5 separate regions of the Homo sapiens genome follow, and regions 1, 2, 3 and 4 are each linked to region 5. Evidence: fine-mapped expression QTL. A gene starts in region 5. Each other region holds a variant in brackets. All regions are shown on one strand. Distances are from middle to middle. Region 1 overlaps PDYN-AS1 (PDYN antisense RNA 1). Region 2 overlaps LOC105372501 (a long non-coding RNA gene). Region 3 has its middle 28 kb from the start of SIRPA. Region 4 has its middle 48 kb from the start of SIRPA. Region 5 holds the start of SIRPA (signal regulatory protein alpha).

What was found. PIP is the estimated chance that this variant, and not a neighbour inherited with it, causes the effect.
Region 1: its variant is the best candidate, but not a certain one, in a credible set for the expression of SIRPA in whole blood (TOPMed, PIP 0.87).
Region 2: its variant is the best candidate, but not a certain one, in a credible set for the expression of SIRPA in monocytes (BLUEPRINT, PIP 0.83).
Region 3: its variant is the best candidate, but not a certain one, in a credible set for the expression of SIRPA in unexposed skin (GTEx, PIP 0.67).
Region 4: its variant is the best candidate, but not a certain one, in a credible set for the expression of SIRPA in whole blood (TOPMed, PIP 0.90).

What each region holds. Positions count from the first base shown.
Region 1 is chr20:1,951,634-1,956,734 of GRCh38, reverse strand. The region is part of intron 2 of PDYN-AS1 (PDYN antisense RNA 1); the gene reads right to left. Among named protein-coding and RNA genes, the nearest start is that of PDYN-AS1, 7.0 kb to the right of the region's middle. RefSeq lists an enhancer at 2,133-2,222. The variant G/A (reference allele first, on the strand shown) is at 2,841.
Region 2 is chr20:1,835,416-1,840,516 of GRCh38, reverse strand. LOC105372501 (a long non-coding RNA gene) reads right to left here. Exons shown (of 4, transcript XR_001754475.2): 4 at 3,976-5,101. Among named protein-coding and RNA genes, the nearest start is that of SIRPA, 57 kb to the left of the region's middle. The variant A/G (reference allele first, on the strand shown) is at 2,550.
Region 3 is chr20:1,864,432-1,869,532 of GRCh38, reverse strand. No RefSeq gene overlaps it. Among named protein-coding and RNA genes, the nearest start is that of SIRPA, 28 kb to the left of the region's middle. The variant A/G (reference allele first, on the strand shown) is at 2,639.
Region 4 is chr20:1,844,678-1,849,778 of GRCh38, reverse strand. No RefSeq gene overlaps it. Among named protein-coding and RNA genes, the nearest start is that of SIRPA, 48 kb to the left of the region's middle. The variant G/A (reference allele first, on the strand shown) is at 2,616.
Region 5 is chr20:1,893,428-1,898,528 of GRCh38, reverse strand. It overlaps SIRPA (signal regulatory protein alpha), which reads right to left and starts at 3,122. Exons shown (of 8, transcript NM_001040023.2): 1 at 3,003-3,122. The coding sequence starts at 3,081. It overlaps LOC102724545 (a long non-coding RNA gene), which reads left to right and starts at 4,279. Exons shown (of 4, transcript NR_186374.1): 1 at 4,279-4,410. RefSeq lists an enhancer at 1,962-2,477 and silencers at 3,769-3,888, 3,899-4,158.

The DNA.
Region 1 (5,101 bases), 58 kb before region 5:
TTAGTTGAAGACTGTGGACTAGATAAATACATCACTATGAAGGATAAGCCCACAGCCTTTGAAAGCAAATACATTGAAGAATAATGACTTGAAAAATGTTTTTGAACAATTGTTAAGAAATCTTGATTAAACAATTATATGCATATTCATCATAATTAATACTTCTTGTGTGCTTTACTAATTAACTCATATAATCCTTATAATAATAATAATCTTATGAGGCAGGTACTGTCCTTGTGGACTCAGAAGTTGCATCATGGAGAGGCAGCCTAACTTCCCTGTGGGCAGGTAGTGGGTGGCAGAGCTGGATTCCAACTACTGGTGCTCAGGAAATCTTAGAACACTGAGTCCAGTGCTTCCCAAGGTGTGGTCCCTGGACCAGCAGCCCCACATCACCTGGAACTTGTTAGAAGTGCCAAATCCCAGGCCTGGTCCCAGACCTCCTGATCAAAAGCTCTGGGGGTGGGGCCCAGCAATCTATGTTTGAGCAACCCTTCCAGGTGAATGTATGCTCAGTTTTGAGAGCCACTGTGCAATTGTAAGGGCCGAAGGGAAGCTTCTCCTCTGTCCTCTTAAGGTTTGCTGAAAACGAACTATAATAGACAGATTAGTAAAAGAAAAAGGCATATGAAATTGTATTTAACAAGGCCAGGCATGGTGGCTCATGCCTGTAATTCCACACTTTGGGAGGCCATGGTGAGAGGATCACTTGAAGCCGGAAGTTTGAGACTACCCTGGGTAACAAAACAAGATCCTGTCTCTACAAAAAATTTTTTTAAAAAATTAGCCAGGCATGGTGATATGTGTCCACAGTCCCAGCTACTTGGTAATCAGAGGCAGGAGGATCACTTGAACCCAGGAGTTTGAGGCTGCAGTTGAGCTATGATTGTGCCACTGCACTCCAGCCCAGGCAACAGAAGAACATCTTGCCTCTCAAAAAATAATAATAATAATAAAATAAATTATTTAATGTGAGTAACACAGGGGAATTATAGGAGAATGATTACCCAATAACCCTTATATGCCCTTCTTCATCGGGGAAGGGGAAATGGGAGGTATAGGAGTAAGTGACTTTTTAGGGGAAATGAGTGATCCTAAAGAACAACTGCCTGAGACAAAATTCTTCTGAGCTCTGGGGGAGGTGGCGGGAAGGTAAGGGGCAGACCTTCACTGTAAACAAAGATTGTCTTACTATGCAGATGAAGCGTCCCAGGTGATCTCTAGGAGCTGCTCTCAGAAAAACAAATGAAAGTCTGTCTGAGCACGGTGACTACATCTAGTCTCTTTTCCAGTGGTTAATCTTTCCTGGTTATTTGATGAGATTCCTAGGGACGGGGAGTTTTAAGAAATTGCATTTCTCTTGGAAAGAAGCTTTCTTAGGCAGATAAGAAAATTCCAGCGACAGCCCCTCCTGGTGCTTTGGGAAAGTAAGAGGATCAGAGAGACAGGGAGGCAGGGCAAGGTCAGAAAGAGACCTTGAAACCGCTTCTTCAGTTCAGCACGTCAAAGCGCCAGATTCTGGGGTATTATTTTCTGAGCCTGAATACAACACTATTGCATCTTTTCTCGAAATTTTGTAAAAAGAAAGTATATGTATGTATAAAAAAGTCTGATGGATTGGTCATTAAAATATTAACAGTGTCACTTCTGAATGGTGGGGTTCTGGGTGATTTTTTTATATATATTTTTTTGTTTTATAATTCCAAAAGGTACATAATGAACTTCTGCATCCAAAGTAAAAGAAAAAAATACATGTTCTTTAAAAAAAAAAAAAAAAGAAGAAGGGGCCAGGCACAGAGGCTCACGCCTGTTATCCCAGCACTTTTTGGGAGGCCAAGGTGGGTGAATCACTTGAGGTCAGGGGTTCAAGACCAGCCTGGCCAACATGGTGAAACCCCATCTCTATTAAAAATACAAAATTTAGCCAGGTGTGGTGGCACAGGCTTGTAATCCCAGCTACTTGGAAGGCTGAGGTGGGAGGATCGCTTGAACCAGGGAGGTGGAAACTACAGTGAGCTGAGATTGCACCACTGCACTCCCCTGGGAGACACAGTGAGGCTCTGTCTCAAAAAAAAAAAAAAAAAAAAGGAACTCCGCTTCAATACTCAGTGAGATGGTATATATTTTGGGTAGAAGGGAAGTAGAGAAGAAAATGGTTCCCCTAAATCATACAGCAACTCCAGCAGTTCTTCTTCAGTGTGAATGAATCACCAGGGGGTCTTGTGAAAATGCAGACTTGGCCGGGTGCGGAGGCTCACGCCTGTGATCCCAGCACTTTGGGAGGCCGAGGCGGGCGGATCACGAGGTCAGGAGATCGAGACCACGGTGAAACCCCGTCTCTACTAAAAATACAAAAAAATCAGCCGGGCGTGGTGGTGGGCGCCTGTAGTCCCAGCTACTCGGGAGGCTGAGGCAGGAGAATGGCATGAACCCAGGAGTCGGAGCTTGCGGTGAGCCGAGATCGCGCCACTGCACTCCAGCCTGGGCGACAGAGCGAGACTCCCTCTCAAAAAAAAAAAAAAAAAAAAAAAAAGAAAGAAAAAAAAAGAAAATGCAGACTCAGTGAGGCTTGCGGCTAAGATGCTGCACTCCCAACCAGCTCCCAGAGGATGCTGAAGATGCTGGTCTAGAGTCCACACTTTAAGAAACAAGAGACCAGAGAGACGGAGGCTCTTAATCTCCAGAATGCAAGCTTCACGAGGGGCCTGGTCCCATGATGTGTTTCCAGTGCTGAGAACGGAGCAAAGAATAGTTATCTAATAAATAGATGGAGGTGCGGCAAGCCTCCTCATTCCTGGGGACCCAGAAATGGGGGTTCTGGTCATGGTTCTGTATCTGCT[G/A]CCAGTAATACCTTTGGCAAGCTGCGGCCTCCCTGTGATGACAACTGTCACTGGGCAGGGTGACAGCTCTGGACCCTTCTTTCCCATGACCCAATATGCAAGACCGGTTCAGCCTGGGCCAGGGCTACCCAACATGTCAGTCTTGCACCAAACAAAAAGTACCAGGAACTTGGTAACACAGGTGTTCTGAGAAGCCCAAAGAAAGGAACTAGAGATGAAGAAATATCTAAGTTGAGGTTTCCGTAGAAACATTAACTCATCTGCATAGGCTGCATGCTGCATTTGGATTACAGGTTAGGCTCGTAAGCCTGAAATAAATTATATACTCTTCGTATTATTCAACACTGTACTGTATAATAATAAATTATACAGTTATAGGCCTCAGCCCAAGTTATAACAAATTATACCACAGTGTATAATTACCCTGCACTGCACCATATAATAATAAATTAGACAGCTACAAACCTAAGTTGTGACTCCAGAAAGAGGAGAATGAATGGGGGCTACTGATCCATTCCTCTGACCAGTCAGATAAGCCCGGAGCCTGAGAATGAAGAATTTAATTGCTTATTCCTTCCTTCCTCCCTCCCTCTCTTCCTTCCTTCCTCCTTCCCTCCCTCTCTCTTTTCCTTCCTTCCTCCCTCCCTCCCTTCCTTCCTTCCCCTCTTATTCCTTCCTCCTTCTCTCTCTCCCTCCCTCCCTTCCTTCTTCTTTTCCTTCCTTCCTTCCTTCCTTCCTTCCTTCCTTCCTTCCTTCCTTCCTTCCTTCCTTCCTTTCCTTCCTCCCTCCCTCCCTCCATCCCCCTCTCATATTTGAGTGCCTCCCTGGTTTTTGGTGTAGACTTGACCATGGGAGCCTGAGCTGACTTGGAACGAGTCCCCATCTTTGAGGGCTCCCAGGCTGTGGGGTGAAGAGCATGTAAACTGAAAATGAAACAGTGTAACAACAGCTGCTGTGGAAAGAGTAAATTAATCACAGCGGCCTTGGTATCAGGTGTCTACCAGGTAGCAGGCATCAGCACAGGTGTTAACTCCTCATGCCCTGGGGGTAGGTATCATCGTCTCCATTTGACAGGTGAAGCGAGCAGAGCTAACACAAAATGTGACTCGCTTAAGGTCACACAACTATTATAGAAATGGTGGGTGGGAATTTTCACCCAGGACTGTCTATCTGACGGTTAGATTTCTCTGAGGGTGCTACCCAGTCGAGTCAGCTTGGAAAGCAAAAATCAAGTGTCATGAAAAGTACCCCTGGCAAATCCTCAGAGACACTAGGTTGGGGACTGATATTCAGTCTCCTAGTGAGTCCAGCACAGTTGGGGTTCCCTGCAGCCCAGGAGCAGGTTCCTCTTCCTTCCACAGAGGGTACTGGCTGGGGTAATACTGGACCATAATATAATCTAGTGCCAGTGTGGATTAGGAGCTACTGTGAGGACTTCACAGGTGTTAAGCTCATTTTATCCTCTCAACAACCTTATGAGGTTGGTACTTTTCTTATGCCCACTTTACAGGTGAGGAGTCCCAGGCACAGAGGAGTTAGCAACTTGCTCGGGGTTGTACAGCCAGGAAGTGGCGGAGCTGGAGTCTGAATTTGGAGTAGTCTGGTCTGCCAAGTCCCTCATTCTTTCCCACTATACTGCCAGTTTTTTGGGTTTTTTTCCAGCTTATCTTTAAAGACTTGTCCTTAGGTAGCTGTAGGATGAGGGGCCTATGGGGACTGAGCCTCAGAGAGCAGATTCTGCCTCTATCTCATAACCACTTAGGGTGTGTGCCCATTGAGCCACATGGTCCTTACTTAATTTCTTTCTCTCTTCTTGTCTTTCTTTCTGTATTTTTTCTTTTTTCTTTTGTCTGAAGCACACGTTAAACTTGCATAAGCTGTAATTTTATTGTAATCAAACTGTCAAAGAGGCCCAAAGTGACAGGGAAGTGAATGCAACTGCCTCTCTTCCTGCAGTGGTCAGGGAAGGCTTCTGGGAGGAGGTGGCATTAAAGGCATAAAGGGTGAATAGGAGTTTAAACAGCACACAAGGAAGGCAGGCAAGAAGAGTGAAGGTACAGGTGAGAAGAGATTGTTTTGGGAGGGACTCTTAAGTCCTTCCAGGTGGCTGTGTGAGCTGGGCAGGAGGCGAGGTGGGGTGGCAGACAGGGCCTTTCAGTGCCTCACTAGGGGAGCTGGACTTTATGTTAAAAGCAGCGACCGTCAATGTGTGGACGGTGGGCTCCTTGGGGATGTCCGAGCTCCACACTGTAGCCAAGACA
Region 2 (5,101 bases), 58 kb after region 5:
GGCTCCCGATGTCCTGTTTTGCCCCATCCAGGCAGTTTCCTGCCAGCAGCCAAAGTGAGCTACTTAAAATGCGATTTTGACCAGATGATCCCTGATAGAAACACTTTTGTGGGTCCCATTTTATGGAGAATGAAACCCACAGTACATCACTCAGTCTTCAAGTCCCTGCCTGCTCCGGCCTCCAGTTACTCTCAAACTCATCCCCTGTCTCCTCCCTCCATTGCAGCCACACTGATCTCCTTGGGGCTTCTTGGCCACATGGAGCCCTGCTCTGACCTCAGCGCCTTTGCACCTCCTGTTCCCGCTAACTGGGACACTCTTCTCTCTACCCTTTCTGGTCAGTTCCATCACATTCCTTCTGTCTCAGGCGAATGTCACCTCCTCAGAGAAGTGTTCCCTGACTACCCTAACCGGTTCCTCCACCGAGTCACTCTTAGCTGTTGCTTTGTTCCTATATTTATTGTCTTCCGAGTCACTCTTAGCTGTTGCTTTGTTCCTGTATTTATTGTCTTCCGAGTCACTCTTAGCTGTTGCTTTGTTCCTATATTTATTGTCTTCCGAGTCACTCTTAGCTGTTGCTTTGTTCCTATATTTATTGTCTTCCGAGTCACTCTTAGCTGTTGCTTTGTTCCTATATTTATTGTCTTCCGAGTCACTCTTCGCTGTTGCTTTGTTCCTGTATTTACTATCTTCCGAGTCACTCTTAGCTGTTGCTTTGTTCCTATATTTATTGTCTTCCGAGTCACTCTTCGCTGTTGCTTTGTTCCTGTATTTACTGTCTTCCGAGTCACTCTTCGCTGTTGCTTTGTTCCTGTATTTACTGTCTTCCGAGTCACTCTTAGCTGTTGCTTTGTTCCTATATTTATTGTCTTCCGAGTCACTCTTAGCTGTTGCTTTGTTCCTGTATTTATTGTCTTCCGAAGGAGACTGTGAGCTTCCTGAGGGTAGGTCCTTGTTAGCTTCCTGTTCTCAGCTCGGAGGAGGCACATGGCACATAGTAGATGCTCAATAATATTGTCTGGCTGGATGAATGAAGGTGTCTGAGCACACGCAGCCATTTTCCTCGTTATTCCTCCCTGTCCTCACAAGCTAGGATTGTGATGCCCTTTTGAAAGATGATGCGATTGGGTCTCAGAGAGTTTGGGCAAGCTGCCTGGACCACACAGGCAGTGAGCAGTGTGTGTCTGTACGTCCTTTGTGTGTCTATGTGTATGTCTGGATGTATCTCTGGGTGTCCAAGTGTCCTCTGTGTGTGTCTTTGGATGTCTGTGTGTCTGTGAGTCTCTGGGCACCCAGGTATTCCTATGGATTTGTGTATGTCTGTGTGTTTGCAAGTACCTTTCTTTGCTATGCACATGTGGCTGCCATGTGCATATCTCTGTTTCTCTGTGTGAGTCTGTATCTGTATATCATTGTGAGTCCCTTCATGTCAGCTGTCCTAGTGTCTCTGTGTGCCCCTAAGCATGTGTGTCCACGGTCCAGCTCTGTCAGCTCTCCCAGCCCCCACTCGGTGGTCCATGTCATTCCCTGCTGCCCCAGGCTCCTCCAGGGCTCTAACAGCCTGTCATCTTCCAGCTGTGGGGTCCCTGAGTTCTTTGGGCACCTGGGGAGCTGGAGCAGAGGAGAGAGGCAGACAGTCAGGCAGGCACTGTGCATCCCTGGGGCCCACAGACCCCAACCCATGGAAACCCTCGCTAGCCCCAGGATTGGCTCCTGACTTAAAATTGCCAATCCCTGATTGAGCTGCCAGGAGCCCGCACTGGGCTGGTTCCCATGGCAACGTGGAAGCTGCCAGGCCTCCCGCTCATAAAACAGGTCATAAAGCAGGGGGATGGGAGGAGGATCAGGGGCTGCCCAGCTGAGGGGGGGCTGGCTGCCTGGGAGCTGCTGGGGCCACTTCCCTTGGAGACCTGGCCATGCACCTGTTGGCAGCCAGGCCAGGTTCTGCTCTGCCCCTCACACTGAGCAGCCTCTTTGTGAATAGGAGTCATCATGGCCTCTAGTTCTGCCTCTAGGTACGATGTTGCATGGATCCAGGAATGCTTTGGGTGAAAGGGCCCAGCAGGACTGAGGCCTGGGAGTGAGCTCTGTAACCCTCTGTCTCCCCATCAGTAAAACGGAGAGCGAAGGGAAAGCAGCATGGTGAGTGGAAAGAACCAGGCTTGAGAGTGCACTGGGTTCAAACCCAGCTCCACCTGCAAGCTGTGGGACCCTGGGCAAATGGCTTCAGTCTCTGAGCCAAACTTGTTCACCTCTCAAATGGAGACAATAATGGCGTAGAATATTTGTGAAAATTAAATCAAAGTTTATAAAAACTTCTGATGGTGCCTGGTCCAGAGACCAGCTGTGGTTGTTAGAAATAATAGCAGCTATTATAATAATAGTGATAATTGTGTGCCAAGCACTTGTCTAAACACTTTACACGCAGCAGTTTATTTTATCCTCATAGGTGATAATTATTCCCATTTCACAGATGAGGATGCTAAGGCACAAGAGGTTAAGTGACTCACTCAAATCACAGAAACCAGAGGGAGAACTCCGGTTTAGAC[A/G]TGGAGTTGGGGTGCTTTCAGCCACAACCCAGTACTGCCTCTCTCTTCCCTCCCTGCAGAATCAGTGAGGCTAGGGGAGGAGTCAGCATGAGCCCCAGCCAGCCTCCTCAGCTTCAGGGCCTCCCCACTGCAGCCACGAAGAGGAGAGGGCTTGGCGAGCGTGGGCTTGGTCCTCCAGAAGGACTTGGGGAGGCAAGTTGCAGGGATCACAAAACAACCTCCTTCAATACCCTTTTCCCATTGCTCAGAGGGAGAAATTGAGGCCCAGAGAGGGCTAGTGACTTGCACAAAGTCATATAGCGAGATAGTAGCTGCAAGGATTCAAACCCAAGTCCCTTTCTTTGGAGCCAGTTATACTCCCAATAAGCCCTATGGCTGCCCAAGTACCCCAGGCCACTGGCAAAATTGAGAAGAAAGCAAAGCAATAGGGGCAGCAGTAATTCCTGTGTGTTGTGGATTTAGCAGGTATTGGGTATCACGCTGCAACCCTTCACGTGCACCTTGTTTAGTCCTCGCTGCAGTCCTATAAGGTTAAGGCACATGATACACATTATCAGCATCATCCCCATTTTAGAGATGAGAAAATTGAGGATCAGAGAGGTTATGTGATTTCCTTCAGGTCAATTCAAGAGACTTGAACCCAGACCTGCTGATCCCAGAGCGGCATACAAGGACCCAGCCCTCAATCCTGGGGTCTTTCTGTGGTGTAACTCTTGGGGCGTGCCCATGGGGGCTGCCTCGTGCTGACCACAGCAAGGCCCAAGGAATGAGCATTTCTCCGTCCATCCATCTGTCTACCTACCTATCCGTCTGTTCACTCAATAAATATTTACCCAGGGCTTTCTCCATGCCAGGCAATATTCAGGCATTGGGAGGCATACAGCAGTGAACAAAGCAGGCAGTGCCTGGCTTCGTGGCCCTCATACCCTCGTGGGGAGAGGCAGACTATAAACAGAGAAACAACAAAGATGTGTGTCAGGTGGTGGTGAGGGCTATGGAGAAAAACAAAGCCAGAGGAGGGGGCAGCGCAGGATGGCGGGGTCGGAGAAGGCTTCTCTGAGGAGGTGACATTTGAGCGGTGATCTGAAGGAGGTGAGGGCTTGGGCCGTGTGGGGATCACTAGAGAGGGGTTTCTGGCAGAGGAAATAGCGGGAGCAAAGGCCCTGAGGCGGGAGCGTGCCTGGCATGTTGGAGGAACAGAGAACAGGTCAGTGCAGCTGGAGACGGCAAGCAAGCGGCAGGGCGTTGGGGAGGTGGAGAGGTCAGTGGGAATCAGACCAAGGGCGGCCCTGTCAGGTTTTCTTCTGAGTGAGATGGAAGCCATTGGAGGTTCTGAGCAGAAGCGTGGAATCATCTGATTGAGTTTTTAAGAGCATCTTCTGGCTGCTGGAGTGAGGATGTACTACAGGGCTCAAAGGAAGAGGGAGCGGGGGTTAGAAAGGCAAGGTAGTATGTGGGTGTCAGATGGCAGAGGCTAGGGCCACGCAGAGTGAAGGAGGTGGAGAGGGAGGCCAAGATCTGAATATATTCTAAAGGCTAAGCCACAGGATTAGGGTCTGAGAACCCTCTAGGATGGCTCCAGGTTTTTGGCTTAAACCAGAATGAAACTGTCATTTATGCAGGTGGGGAGGACTGCTGGAAAAGCAGTGCGGGCCCGGGCTTTGCACATCTCAGTTCGTTTGTGCCTTATATTCCTCAAGCATCAGAATCACCGGAGACACTTGTTGAAGTCCAGATTTCTGGGATCCTCCACCAGAGCTTCCCATTCAATAGAGCTGGGTGGGGCTTGAGAATGTGGATTTCTAATCAGTTTCCAGGTGATGGCGATGCTGCCAGTCACAGGACCTCACCTTGAGACCCACAGATTGTTGCAGCTGGGGAAGTGGAGGCTCACAGCTGGAAGGCGACTGGTAATAAAGTCATAAATTGAGCCAAAGCCTCTTCAGTCCTTGGCCAGCTTCTGGACCCTGATGGAGAGAGAAGGGAGCCCTCAGACATTTGTCCCCAGAGAATGAGAAGTGGGTGTGGCTGGAGCTCCTAGGGACCCTCTGGTTTCTGCTTCTGTTTCCATGGAGGCCATAAAAAAGGGTAGTGGCCGAGCGTGCATGTGACATGCATTCTCTCCAGCTTCTCCACCCCCGGGTGTAATCCTGTCTGGCTTCCCTGAGCCCTGTGCACAGGAGGGATTCTGGAGAAGCTTGCTGCAAGACCCAGCGGTGTCCTCATTCCTTTGTTTTACAACCGTTTGCCGTGTTCGCATGCCGCAGTTGTCAGGAGTGCTATCCACCATCTGGGTCCATTTCTGGGTCTCCTCATGTGGGGTGCGTGGAGAGGCTGTACTTTCCAGCCTTCTTGAAGTTAGGCACGTCCTTGGCACTTGATTTCTGCCAAGATCTGTGAGCAGAAGTGAGGTGTGTCTCTTTCTGATGGGAGCCTCAAGAGCTGGTGAGCAATTTTTTGTCTGCATCCCCTGCCAGGGAGACTGGCGGGTTCTTCAAGGGAGGGCTCGCCAGCCTGGGCCCCTGACTGTGGACGTTATGGAGGAGAAGCCT
Region 3 (5,101 bases), 29 kb after region 5:
TTCTGCCTCAACCTCCCAAGTAGCTGGGATTACAGGCACCCGCCACCATGCCCTGCTAATTTTTGTATTTTTAGTAGAGAGGAGATTTCACCATGTTGGCCAGGCTAGTCTTGAATTCCTGACCTCAAGTGATCTACCCGCCTCAGTCTCCCAAAGTGCTGGGATTACAGTCATGAGCCACAGCGGCTGGTCGAGTGTGATACTTCGTTATGGCAGCGCTAGCAAATTAATCCAGTGCATTTGCTCATCCAGTCCTTACAAGATCTGCACAGTAAGTCTCATAATTACCCCATTCTGCAGATAAGGAAACAGGCTCAGAGAGGGACAGCGACTTGCCCAACATGACCCAGTTCAGCTCTGTTCTGACCCCAAAGCCAGAGGCAGCGTGCAGTCTAGTGAGAAGATGGGCTTTCACAAGCAAAACTGATGAAGCTGCCTTGGCCATCTGCCCTCATGACTGGGCAGTGCTGTGTGAGCTCAGAGGACCAAGGGCTCCATTTAGGGCAGTCAGCCAGGCTTCCTGCAGGAGGCAGAAGCCCCTGGGCCTTGCAGAGTAAGTACAATTTCGTTAAGGATAGTGAAACCACAGAATTCAGGGTAGACAGCTGCTGTTCAGGGGTGTGGAGGGAGGAATCCTCATGGCCTCCTTGGGTAGGTGCCTCAGTTGCTCATTTGGACAGAGCACAGGGTCCAAACTAGGTCATGGCCGGTCGGGGGAGGAGAGGAGGAAGTGAAGAATTGACGCCAGGTGAATCATCTGGCATGTGTAGTGTGAAGTTATCACATGAGACTGGATTTTAATGTTTTGGTTTTAGGACCCCTTTATACTCTTAAAAATTACTGTGGACCCCAAAGAATTTTGTTTATGTCAGTTTATCTATTGATAGTTACCATGTTAGGAATTAAAACATTTAAGAAACACACTTGGCCAGGTGTGGTGACTCATGCCTATAATCCCATCACTTCAGAAGGCTGAGGCAGGCAGATCACTTGAGGTCAGGAGTTCGAGACCAGCCTGGCCAACATGGTGAAACCCCATCTCTACTAAAAAAAATACAAAAACTAGCTGGGTGTGGTGGTGCGCACTGGTAGTCCCAGCTACTTGGGAGGATGAGGCAGGAGAACTGCTTGAATCTGGGAGGCAGAGGTTGCAGTGAGCTGATATCACACCACTGCACTTCAGCCTGGGCACAGAGTGAGATCTGAAATAAAAAAGAAAAAAGAAGAAGAAAGAAAGGAAAGGAAGGAAAGGAAAGGAGGAAAGAAAGAAAGAAAGAAAGAAAGAAAGAAAGAAAGAAAGAGAAAGAAAGAAAGAAAGAAAGAAAGAGAAAGAAAGAAAGAAAAGAAAAGAAAAGAAAAGAACACTCCATTAGTTGTCAAAGCGAGGTCATCTTCCTAACAATCTTCTAGTGTGTTACTATTATAATCCCATTTTACAGATGAGAAAACTGAGGTCCAGATAAGCTGAGTCATCCAAAGTCTCACAGCTACCATGTGAACTGAGCCAGGATTTGAACCCAGGCATTCTGCCTCCAGAGCCCAGGCTGTTAACTGCTGCATCATGCTGGACATGCTGCACCTGCCCCCATTCCTACCCCAGGTATGGAGTTTGGACATTATCCTAGGAGTCTTGGGCTAAATCCCTGGAGCCTGTCTATAGCCAGTAGAATGGGGTACAAGGAGTTAAGCTTTCCCGAGATGAGATTTCAAACCGTGAAAGGGATGCTTTACCCCAGAGGCACACCAGGCATCCCACACCCACCTCCACACAAGACAGGGGTGAGAAGTCTGCTCTCACAGCCAAAGCCTTTGAAATGTTATTTCCTGAAGTGTTGCCTCACCCCTACCACAGCTCAAAGCCTCTGGGACTGGGGCTCCCTCCAGGAAGCAGCTGGTCCCCATCCTTCCTCCTGCATAGAGCCTGGGACCAGCCAGGACCAGAGATAACTTAGCTCTCTGTAGGGTATAGGGCAGGATAAGTCCTGGCTAAAATCTGCCCTCCCACTGAAAGCCTTGCCCAGCCCACATGCACCTTGATTTAGCTCATTTTTACTGTATTTGCAGGGGACCTCCTGTGTGCCATGACGCTTCACAATCAGAACCTCGCTTAAGCCTCATGACAACTTTATGCATCTGGTCATTTTGCAAATCCAATCAATCAATACGGAGCACTTGCTATGTTCCTGATGCTAAACTAGATACCAGGGACACGGTGCAGAGGATGAAGACAGATAAGGACCCATCTCTTGGGGAACTTACCGTCTAGAGAGAGAAGACAGCCAGACGAGGAGAGAGGCAATCGTGGGCAGTGCAGGAGAACAGGAAACACAGGGGGCTTTGCAAGCACAGAATAGGGACTCAGTAAATATTCGTGGTTGAATGGAAAGCTCTTAGGATAATGGCTCTCAGGTAGCTCTCCAATGTGCCAGCCTATTGTGTTAGTTAGGGCAGGATAACTGCTGTTACAGACAACCCCCAAATCTCAGTGACTCATAATCTGTTTACTTGTCACTCAGGTCACAGTCCAGTGTAGGTCAACTCCTCATGGTCACTCAGAGACCCAGGTCCTTCCATCCAGGGGAGGGGATCTTGATTTCTTTTTTGATCTTCTGCATCCCCCGGCAGAGGAGAGGAAAAG[A/G]CAGGGTGTGGAGGAGCATGGGGGAGGTTTTATGGGCAGGCCTGGAAGGGATTCATGGCCAATTCACCTGGTCTTGTGTGGGGGTGTAGGTAGTGACCTAGGAGTGAAGGAAGGAGCAGTGTCATGCCCAGCAGTTCCCCCAGGTGAATTCAATGGAGGAGAGGTGATTTTCCTAAACAATGAGGGTTACTTAGGAAGGGGGCATGGATTCTGGGTGGTCACAGCCTTCTAACCGGTATATATTCACTGCAGTATGCTAGTCAGGATTCTTTTAGCTTCAACTGATAAAAACCCAACTCAAACTACTTAAGGAAAAGAGGGAATGTATTGGTTCTGGTCTAGGAAGGTGGTTTCAGGAATGGCTGGATACAGGAACTCAACAGGGTCATCTTTTCTGGTTGGCTTTAGCCTCCAGGCAGGCTGTCAATGTGTGGTAGGGAAGCAGGCCACCAGCAGGTACACCCAAACATGTATGCAACAAGCCCAGCAAGGCTGGCAGGAGCGAGGCATATGTATCATTTATCTGTGTACATCTATAATATGTATGTCATATATCATGTATCCTCTCTATATATCATATATCCATGTACATATCACATATGTCATATATTGTATATCCTATATATATCATATATATGTCATATATCCTCTATACACATCATACATCCATGTATATATATCTATCATATACATGTCATATACCTACATATATTATGTATCCATATCTATGCCACATACTCATCCCAGAAAATCACTTTGGTCCTGAATGGGACCCATGACCACTCTTGTTTTGGTGATCTTGATGGAAACCCCAAGTTTACATGGTGTGGAGGAGGGACCATTTTCCGAAAAAGGGACTCAGACAGACAATACCGTCAAGTTCGCTACAGGAGAGATTACTAGATCTTTCCAAGAACATTGGGTCTATCTCACAGTCCTAGGTGTCAAAAGGAAAAGAGAAAAGCAAGGTGTCAAAAGGAAAAAAGAGGAAACTTGAGAAAAATAGGTGTCTAATCTCTTTGTTAATAGCCAATTTCTAGGAGCCAGGTATGGACTATGTGATTTTTATGGCATCTACATATAATGTTGCTTTCTTCCTCACTTAAGTTCAGAAGCAGTAGGAGACCGAGGAGTCAAGAGGTGAGGAACAAAATGTCAGCTTATTACAGATAAAGCTGTTTAGAGAACGTGGCTTGGGCATGCAGGCAAATGGAACTGCTAACACTGATCCTCAGAGTTGGACAGCCTTACCTTTGCAATCACAGGTAGATGGATAAACACAGACCTCTCCCCTCTGACTCCTGGGACAGAACATGTCTTCACAGGTAGCTGATCCCAGGTTGAGAGAGGGCTCCCCTCTTCATACTCACCAATCATTCAGTCCAGGTTTGTTGCTCTGATGGAGGCCACCCCAACCCCCAGCCCCTTTTCAAATGTGCACCACAGTAGGGAATGAGGCCAGGACCTGAGACCTGGCTGCCTGGTGGGTAGACCCTGGAATGTACAAGCAAACAGCCCCTAATGCCAGGAGCTCCTGGTTCCCGAGGAAACAGATGAAATTTGTGATGGGCAGAGAGTCAGAGAAAGAAGCATTCTTGTTTTCCTTTATTTTTTCAAAAATGACTATTCGAATAATACAATCCACTGTGAAAATTTTAAAAGGAAAAAAAAGCCAGGAAAGAATTGTAAAACTGCAAGCCACCTTCAATTCCATCATCTGGTGTTAACTATCATTACATGTTGGTGTATATCCCTTGGGCCTTTGTGAGTGTGTGTGTTTAAACAAAATTAGAATCTTGCTCTATGCATAATTTTTTATCTGGCTCTCTTTAACATTCTATATAAAGCATTTCAGCATGTCCACAAGGCTGGAGGCAGCACGAGGGCAGGAACCAAGTCTGCTTGATGATTGCTGTCTCCCCAGGGCCTCCCATGTGGACCATGCTAAAAAACAATATTGCAGAAAAGAACGATATTCACAGGTAATATTGATTAGGTGACTTCTAGGCATCACCATGCATCATCGAATTACATTCTTACAAGATAATGCAATGGGCACCTCTATGAACCATACCTTGTAGAAGAGGAAACTGAGGCCAGGGGAGGTGAAGTAGCTCACACAAGGTCACCATCAATGTTATATCCCTGCATGAACACATCCTGTATGTGCATCTTCCTACTTGACACATTTTCTTCTTGCCACTTTCCAGTTTTAATCAGGGATAGAGGGAAGCTCTGTTTACTTGAGAGAGGACTCTTTATTTGGAAAGAAGGTCTATCCCATTATGAGAGGGGGATGTGCTGAGGACTGTCACCCAGCCTTTGAGCCCCATTGGGATTCTTTTTTTTTTTCTTAATTTTTCTTAAGACAAGGTTTTGCTCTGTCACCCAGGCTGGAGTGCAGTGGTGGGATCTTAGCTTACTGCAACCTCAAACTCCTGGCCTTAAGTGATCCTCCTCCCT
Region 4 (5,101 bases), 49 kb after region 5:
CCAGGCTGGAGTGCAGTGGCACAATCTCTGCTCACTGCAACCTCTGCCTCCCAGGTTCAAGCAATTCTCCTGCCTCAGCCTCCTGAGTAGCTGGGATTACAGGTGCCCGCCACCATGCCTAGCTAATTTTTTATTTTATTTTTTTTAGTAAAGACAGAGTTTTGTCATGTTGGCTAGGCTGGTCTCGAACTCCTGACCTCAGGCAATCCTTCCGCTTTGGCCTCCCAAGTGCTGGCATTACAGGTGTGAGCCACTGCACCCGACCTCTTTTTGATTACCATGAGCTCTAGAATGCTGCATTCCTGAGGCCATATCCGGGCTCAGGGGGGAAGAACACCCTGATCGTTTAGTGATGTCTGCCATGGACAATGGGAGCAGGGCATGCCTGCCAATGTGTTGTCATTATCCTTGTAATATAGTGCAGCTGAATAAGGAGGGAGAGCAGAGGGAGCTGTGGGAGCCAGCAGGGAGCCTAGCCTGGGGTGAGTTCCAGCCATCTGGAGAAGACGGCAGTGACCCTGGAGGTGACAGAGAAGTGGGAGTTTGCCAGGTAGAGAAGGGCAGGAAGAGGATTCCATGCTAGAGCAACCTGGAGGAGCAACTGTGCAAAGTTCTGCAGGGGTGCTTTAGGTACAGCTTCTTACAGCTGGCAAGTACTGTGGTGGTGGGGTGGGGGGACAAGAAGGCCATGAAGAGTGGGACCAGATCACACAGGGCCTTGAAGGCCACTATTAATGTTCTAGATGTTATCCCAGGCCAGGGGGAGCTATGGTGGAGTTTTAAGCACTCGCTGAGTGACATTGTCACCCTCTTCAGAATGGCCCATTCCTGCTCTTAGTGGGGTGGATGGGAAAGGGTTGGATGGATGCAGGGGTACCAGCAGGAGCCCATGACAGCCGTCAGGTGGAGGGCAGGAGCCAGATGGGGCAGTGCTGTGGACAAGTGGCGGCAGGAATCAGGCATCTGAGTCGAGGTGTCTTGAGGAGGTTGCCCGCCTCCCCTCTCATGAATGTTTAGGAAGTGAGATGAGGGCACCTGGGGCTGCAGGGACCAGATTCTCCAGATGAATCTGCTGCCTCTGAGTAAACCAACAACTAGAACCTTACAGCTGTGGAGCTGGGGGCTGCTCAGAGCAACCTTGAGCCTGCAGCTGCCCTGGGCTGCCTGGAGGGTGAGGAGCCTACAGGGCTGGGCTCTGGGGAGATGGACCTTGGCCACCAGCTACCCAACAAGTGCAGCAAGATTCCCCTGGCAGGTGGGGCCAGGTGAGCAGCTTCACTCCTGCTTGTCTGGGTTGGGGCTCCTTGAAAAAAGTTTGTGGGAGCCTGGCTAGCCCTAATAACAGCAACACATATAAAAACAATAAGAGCTCTCCTGACATCAGCATAGCCATCATAATGCACCCCAAATCTAAAAGCTGCCATCATCTCTATGGCTACCACCTTCATCCCAGGTGCCATATCTCACCTGGATCGTCACCACAGACTCTCCACTGGCTTCCCTGCTTCCACCCTGGGCCCCTCCAGTCCATTCTCCAGGTAGCAGCCAGAGGAATCCTGTTAAAACAGAAGTCAGGTCATGTGGCTCTTTTGAAGGAAATCCTCCAAAGGCCTCCATCTCACAGCTGAAGCCAAAATCCCTACATGATAATCTGCTTCCCTCCTGGGGTGGTGGGGGGCCACCTCCCATTTACCTTCCTCTCTGACCTTGTTTTCCATCATTCAAGATCATTCCTCTCTGGCCACCTCAGCCTCTGGGCTTTCCCTGGGGCATAACTGTCTGTGAACATTTATGCCCCAGGACCTTTGCACCAGCTGTTCATTTTGCCTGGAATGCTCTTCCCCCAAATATTTGCCTGGTTCCTCTATTACCTCCCTTGGGTCTTTGCTCAAATGTCACCTTCTTATTGAGGCCTTCCCTGACCTACCGCCTTATTTAAAATTGCATCCCCTGAATCTACTCTTCTTGGCCTGCTCCCGTGCTTTTTCTCCATAGGACACATCACCACCTGATATGGTTTGGGTGTGTCCCCACCCAAATCTCATCGTGAACTGTAGCTCCCATAATTTCCATGTGTCATGGGAGGGACCCAGTAGGAGGTAACTGAATCATGGAGGTTGGTCTTTCCTGTGCTGTTCTCATGATGGTGATAAGTCTCATGAGATCTGATGGTTTTATAAAGGGGAGTTCCCCTACACAAGATGTCTTGCCTGCGCCATGTAAGACGTGACTTTTCTCCTCATTCACCTTCTGCCATGATTGTGAGGCCTCCTCAGCCATGTGGAACTGTGAGCCAATTAAACCTCTTTTCTTTATAAATTACCCAGTCTCAGGTATGTCTTTATTAACAGCATGAGAACAGACTAATACACCATCTAATATACTATGTATGTATTTTACTTATTTAGGAGTCTGATCCTTCCCTTAGGTTGTGTGCTCCCTGAGGGCAGGGACCTTGTCCTTTTCATCACTGTTGAGATTCTAGCACTGTAAACACTGTCTGGTGCATAATAGGAGCTCAATGTACTTCTGTTAAATGGTTGAAGGAATGGTACTACTTAATCCAATGTGTCTGACACTGGCCTTCACCCTCTTAACAAATCTAAGAAAGCTAC[G/A]TTGTGAATTTTCATTCTTTTCTCTTTTCAGTTTGGAGAATTTCTGTTGACCCATCACTAAGTTTCACTTTCCTCCTCTGTGTCCAGTCTGTTGCTAATCCCATCAACAGAATTCTTCCTCTTTGATATTATCTTTTTCTTGCTGGTTCCAGCACTTCCAGTCAGCTCTCTCTCTCTTTTGTTTCTCATAGTTTCCTTCTCTCTTCTGAAACTTCCCATCTGTTTATGTATGTTGTCTACCTTTTCTGCTAGATCCTTTAATCTATTTATTACCATTATTTGAAAGCCCCTGTTTCAGAGTGGATGATCATTTATTGAGTACTATATGTCAGACATTGGGATAATGGATGACTTTAACCATTTTAACAAGTTGAATTGGATGAGAAAATGGAAGTTTCATAGTAGGAAGTGACCAGGGGGTGAGGGCATTGGGATTCCAACCTCAGACTGACAGCAGAGCTTTTGTTCTGTTAGTCTGCCTTTAGCTACCAGCTCTCCCAGAGACCTGGGCTCAGTTCACCAGTTTATTCACAATGAAGGATCCAGGTGGCCGGTCCCCATGGCACCTCACTGTGGCCAGGTCTCTGAAGAGTAGAGCCAGCTCAGATGCAAGCTTCCCCACTTGGCCTTCCAGACCCCTACCATCTGGCCCCATCCACTTTTTCCTTCCCATTCCCAGGGCTCCCCTGCAGAGAGCCAAGCTGGCCCCTTCCTCTGCCAGAACCACTCTCCACCTTGTTCTCCATCTTTCCACTCCATCCCAAACATGGCTCTTCTGTGTCTCATTCAATGAGCTGGGTCACTTAACATGTATTTAATCAGCTTGGATTCTGGTCTCTTCACTTACCAGCTGTGTGAGTTAAGTAAACAATTCGCTTCTCTGTGCCTCAGTTTCCAAACCCATGAAGTGGGGACAATGGAAGGACCTATCTCAGGGAAATGGCATGAGGATTGGCAAGTTAGACCATGTATCAATACAGAACCAATACAGTGCCTGCCTCTCAGCCAGTCCTTAGTAAGTGTTAGCCATCATTAACAGTGACAGCTATGATGTGGGGACACAAAGGTGGCTCAGGCCTGACTCTGCTCTCTTGGATCCCCCAATCCCGAGGGGCATCAGGCGTGTAAACCCAATCCCTGTGATCAGGGATAGAGATGGCACAGGCCGGGGACAGCCTGGAAGAGGGGCACTTCCTTTGCCTGCCTGTCTAGCCACTTGGCCGATCAGAGGGACAAAGTCACTGGGCTGTGAAAAGTCCAGCTGGCCAGGCCATGGCAGGAGCCCCCTCCTGCTGGCCCTTCCTCCAGTCCCCACCCCAGCCAGCCACATTTGCTCTTGTCAGGCAGAGGAGGCTGGGCACTGCACATGCGGGGCTAAGACTGAGGTTGTGCACACAGAGACGTAGGTAAGGTGTGAACTTAGGCATGCCAACTTGCATGCTACGAGGCATATCAGCTGGGGCAAGTGTGCTCAGTCAGCCAGATAGACCCAGACAGACACATGCACGCAGAAAGAGCCCTAACATCACAACGGCTCACACATGGCTCCTAGTATGTGCCAGGCATCAATCCGAGCATTCCACATATATTCATTTGTTTGATCCTCACAACAACCTTATAAGGTATGTTTTATTAATATGCCCATTTTACTGATAAGGAAAGTGAAGCAGAGAGGGGGTTGAGTAATTTGCTCAAGGTCATACCCAGTAAGTGGCAGACCTAGATTCCAACCCAGGGAGTCAGGCTACAGAGACAGAACTCTTAACAGCTGTGCAGATCCATGAAACACATGCACAATGACACACACTCATTTTGGACATGCAGACATGGATACATGCCTCCTGATGAACATGGATACCTTCCCAGGTATGTATAAACACAAAGACAAGACGATGTATAAACACAAAGGGATGTATAAACACAAAGACAAGGGATGTATAAACACAGAGATGTATAAACACAAAGACAAGATGAAGATGCCCATGCACACTTGCATTCACACAGTTGGGGAGGGCTAAGTAAACCACTGTTTAACTTGTGGGCAGCAGACTCAAGACCCCTATGCAGCCATAAACACTCAGGCAGACACACTCAGAGGTAGGAATGCACATGCTGTGTGTACACGTGCTAAGACTCCTTCCACAACCAACACACAGAGAAACGGAAAACAGCAATCACGATGGATTCTTATAGTATCTGCTCAGGCTCTTAGCTGACTTCTCAGTTTCCCTTCCTCTCTACGGCAGCAGCAGCCCCAGAAGGGTGGGGGCTTCCCCCATGTGATTCCCCAACGTGTTTGGCGCAATGCCTGGTAATAACATACGCTCACCCTTTCTGGCTTTCCTCACTAGAAAGAGTGTCAGGCCCTTTGCAGTTAAAAGCTTCACTTTACAGTCAGACAGGCCCAAGATATTGCTCTCAGCTGCCCTACTTGTGAGGCAAGGGATTTCACCATTCCAAGCCCACCACTCTCCCCCTAGAACGTG
Region 5 (5,101 bases):
TCCATGTCTTGCGGGTGAGACGACGCAGGAGCAGCATCCGGCCTGGAACGCCATTAACTATCTAATGAATGTTGGTTTTCCTCCCTTCTCTCAACACATGGTTCACACCAGCACTGCATAGGTGCTGCATGACTGCAAGTACAGACGTGAATTACCGTGAGTTTCCGAGGGGTTGGTAAAGGCCAGAAAGTACTCAGAGAAAACTATGGCTTTAAAGGAACTTCCAACAGCCTGATGTGTTGAGCCAAAGCACTCCCGCCCCGTTTTCTCTTCTTACGAAAGAGGAAGTGAGATTAACTTTACCATTTAGGAAAGTACAGAGGAGCCCCCAGAGTGCCACCCTCTACCAAACGGTGAGAGGTTCACTGGGGGGCCCCGCTGCTCCCCAGAGCCTGAACTGCAACTTGGCTTGGCCTCCTCCAGGCCAGAGAGAAGAAATGAATGGGAGTTTATCTGAGGTCGGCCTGGGGGGTGACTCAGAGGTCTCAAGGCCTACCTGGGGCCAAGCAGGCATCCTGCGGGTTCAGCGTCAGGCCCTGCTGACACAAAATCAGGTGCCAGGTGTCCCCAGGCCTCAGTCCCTTGCCCTTCTCCCAGCCTCAGAATCTCCCTCAGTGCAGTTGTTTTAGGAAACAGGCCTCACATTGGGTCCAAAAACATAGGTTGGTGACTTCACTGGGATCTTTTTAGAATTTCCCTTTGGCAGCATTTGTGCTAAAAGCAATCTTTAGAAACTTCTTCTCTTGCCTCCCCCACCCAGGATAATTCACATGATTGGCCCCACCCCCCCAAAACAGTGATCATGTGAAGACACAGGAATCATGTGACACCTCCCAGGCTGACAGTTCTGCCTGAGACACTAGTAGTCATTCAATCCAAAGCCGCCTTCCTAAACCTGACATTTTAGTTTCTCACTCGAACAAATCCATTTTCTTAGAAAATTGGACAACTGCCTCCTTGTACCTTCCTACCCTCATATCCTGTCTCTCTACTTCTTTGTTGTAAATTCCATGTCTGGAGCAATAGGGGGAGGGGCCTGAGGCCCCATCCTTCAGCCAAACCAGGTGACTTCCCTGCCCAGGCCCATGGTGTGACCAGGACCCCGAAGAACAGATACTGAAGGATAATGGGAGACTTGAGCTATGATGGTCGCACCTCATCCCTTCCCCACCACCCTCGACCAAGAAATTCATTCTTACCTCCTAAGATTTATTTATTTCAAAGCTAATCTTGGCCCCTCTGCTGCTCCCACTTTTTCAGGCTATTGATGCTGAATGGATTGGAACGGAAGTTTTATGGCCCAATCTTTACCATCTTATAGACTGTTTTTATAGGCAAAAGGGGGAGATGTGCTCACAAGAAAGGTGTTGGTGTTCCCAGCCGGTGCCCCAGGAAAGGCAGGCTGCCCATCGGAGCACTTGCTAATCAGCGTCACTGCTCGTTTGCCAGGGACTGAACCACAGCCTCCTGGTCGGAGAAGGGTCTGGAATAGACATTTAGAAATTAACTCGGGCCCAATTCCCTGCTTCAGGAAAATTAAGCACTTGTGAGTGACACTTGTGCATTTCCAGGCCAGGAAGGATGGCAGGGCAGGAACTCGGACTTTTGCAGGGTACAAATGGCCAGCTCAGGCAGGAAGGAGCAGATAGGAGATGCCACTCACTGGAGAGACGTGAACTGTATCAGTGCTCCCTTCAGCCCAGCAAGGACGCAACTATAACTGAAAAGAACTGGGGGTGGAGGGTGGGGTGGGGTGGGGGGATGCCTATGTGAATTCCTGGGTTTCAGGGGAAACTGCAGGGCAGAGAGAAGCAGCTGTCTACCCCCCATACTTCTCCTTCCACCCACTCTTTGCTAGTTCTCCCTTTCTCCCTGCTATCAGATGGTTACCATCTCTAGTCAAACGCAAAAGGGGGTGTTGGACACTGAGCTCATCTTTACCTCCCTCCTCAAGGGTGGGAGGTACAGAGAGACCCCACTGCCTACAACACAGTTTCAAGACGACAAAAAACAAGATCCCCATTTTTCTCTCCCTCCCAACTCCCTTAATGCCATTTCTCTGCTCCCCCCGCCCCCCACCCGGTGCCCTCCCAGGAGACCCATGGTTTTGCAAAACCCATTTAAGAAGCAAGACTCCTGAATGGTGACCTCACCCTTTGGTGAACATGCACAGTAGCCTTCAGAGCCCGCCTGCCGGCGACAGCCAGGTGTTTGATGTAGGCCAACAGAAAGACATGGTCAGAGCCACAGGTAACATCCCCGCGGAGCACCTGAACTGCAGGGAGCTGCCTGGAAGCTCGGGGAAGGCAGGAGGAAGGGGGAGCTGGGAGCGCCTCAAGGAGCAAGACCACCAGGGAGAGGCTTTGGCAACCACAGGGACAATCCACCGTGTTTTTACATAAGGATCTGTTGCTCGCAGCAGCTCGCTCTGGGGTTACCGCGGCCTCCCGGCTCCCTCTCTCCCAGGCACACACTAACACCGGTTTACTCTGCGCACCAGAGGGAGGGCTCACTCTTCCCTAATTGCAACAGCTTGTCTCTGTTCCATTCCAGGCAGCATCGGGAGGACCTCTGCCCTCACCTCCTCCCCTCACACCCTGAAGTCAAACATGTGGAAAGTCGTATGTCCATGGGGACAGATTCTGGGGAAGCCGGACGGCCCTGCTCTGAAAGCCACTGTCAGTCAGCCTTCCCCATTGGACCGGGCAGGGGCTGAGTGAAGCAACTCGGCTCTTTTGTCTCAGTGCCCAGCACAGTGCACAGAGTCAGAGTCCACAGAGACAAACTCTCATAGAAGAGACTTGGGTTCTACCCTTGGCTGTGTGACCTTGGGCATGTCGCTGGCCCTCTCTGGGCCTCAGTTTCTGCATCTATAACCCTGGTTACAGGCGTCTCTCCCCCTATTACTGCTCGGCATTAGCCGAAGGGGTCCCAGTGCCAGTCTGAGAGGCCTGAGCCCGCAGTTTGGGGAGTGCAGCGGTGGGGAGCGGGGGGGTGCTTACCTGACCAGGCGCAGGACGCGGCGAGCAGCAGGCAGAGCAGCGGCCCGAGGCGGCCGGGGGCCGGGCCGGCGGGCTCCATGGGCCGCGGCTGCGGAGCGAGGAGGGAGAGCGGCCGTGAGTGCGCGCTCGGGCGGGAGCAGGCTGGAGCGGGGAAATGACTAAGGCTCCCCCCCTTCCCCCCTCCCGGCTGGGCCTCCCCCCGACTCCGGAACGGGCGCCTGGAGCGGCCGCCGCCGCCGCCGCGGTTTTTGGAGACCCCCCCTCCCCGCCCCCCAGGAGAAATGGAGAGACGGAGACTGGGAGAGACCCCAAGCGCGCGAGAAATAAAGCCAGGGGCGGCCAGAGAGAGGCGGCAGGAGAGAGAAACAGACCCAAGGGAGCCAGGCAGAGAGCCAGAGACACGGAGAGGCGAGAGGGGGAGAAAGAGGGGGAGAGCGAGGAGCGAGGAGCGAGGCGGCGCGCAGACCGACAGACCGCGCGGGAGAGAGGACCGCGCGAGCAGGGGCGAGGGGCAGCACGGCCGAGCCCGGCCGCGCGGAGCCGCCCCCGCCGCTGCCCACCTGCCCCGCCCGGGCTCCACACGGCGCGGGCGGCTGGGCTCGCTCCCGGCCCGCAGTCCCGGCCGCTGCCCCCGCCCTCCCGGCAGCCCGACCCCCTCCCTCCTTCCCTTTCCCCTCCTCCCGTCTTCCCGCCGCCCGGGGAGGCTTCGGGGCTCCGGCCCCGCCGGCACCTTCTCTGCGAGCGAGCGCCCGCCTGCGCGCCCCGGGGGAGGGAGCGAGGGCTGCGAGCTGCGCGCCCGGCCGGGGAGGGCAGCGTCCTCCCCCGCGCCGGCGCCCGGGCCCCGGCTGCTGTCCCGGGAAGGCGGCCCCGCGAGCCGCCGCGGCCCGCTGGGGCTCGGGACTAGACGAGCCTCCGGCTCCGACAGCGTGCCCGTTCAGAAGCCCGCGCGGCTGGTCCCCAGCCCCGACCGGTCCCGCTCTGCCCCTCCCCGTCCCTGCCGGGCCCGGACCTGCGCCGCCCGCGAGGGCTGGAAGGCACTGGAAGCGCCGCCGGGGCTGCCCAGAGGCCGGGTCCCCGCTCCACTTTGCGCAAACTTGTTTTTCTAAGGTCAGCGCTGCGAGCTGGCTACATCGTCCTCTTAAGGTGGACCGGGGAAGTTGCGGCCGACCTCCCCTCGCCTCCGGACTCCGGCCGCGCGGCTGCTCCCCGCTTCCCACTGGCGAGAGGCTGGAGGCGGCGAAGGAGTCGGGGCGCGGGGGCGCGGGGGGCGGGGGGGCGTCTGCCTTTTAACCCTCCCCAGGAGGTCGTGCCTCTGAGCCCCAAAGCTGAAGGCCCCTCTTGGGGGTGGGTGCGGGCCGGAGGGGCCCGATCCTTTCAGAGCCGGGCCGAGGTGAAGGAAAAGAAGGAAGTAAGTGAACGCAGGGGGAAGGGGAGAGGAAGAAGAGATGATGGTACAAAAATAGCGTGTGTGTAGGAAGGACTTCGGTGCCGCCTGGAAAAGAGGCGCGGGGAGGAGAGGGAGCGAGAAGGGGGCTGTGGCGCGCAACCAGAGGGGAAGGGTCGGGGCCTTCCCAGGGAGGTGGAGGCCCCCTGGCCAGGTGTCTCGGTGGTGGAGGGCGGACTGGGCGGGTGGGAGGCCCAGGCCGGGGCGTGTGTGGGAGAGCGGGGCCCTGAAGGCCTGGGTTCCGGGAGAAGGACAAGCCCTGAGGAAGATGAGGGGAAGGGGAGCCGGGGCCAGAGGCCTGGAGTTGGAGAGGACAGAACCCCGGTTTTCCCGGAGGGAACGCCGTTCCTGTAGTAGCCAGGTCAGTGATGGGGAGTGCCAGTGTCGTGGTCACCTGGCAGAAGGCTCCGCACTGTGGGAGGAACACAAGTTCAAGACCCCGCTGCTAATGGGAGAGAATTTTGGTTCACACAGTGGCGGTTAAGAGGACAGGAATGACACAAGGTGAGAGAAGGCCCAACCCTGTAAATGGACAGAAAGTTGAGGCCCGGAGAGGGAATAGGTTTGCTTAAGGCCACACAGCAAAGCTTGGGGTAGAAACAAGATTTGAATTCCTGATTCCCAGGTTAAAGACCTGTGCAAAGTAACACCACTG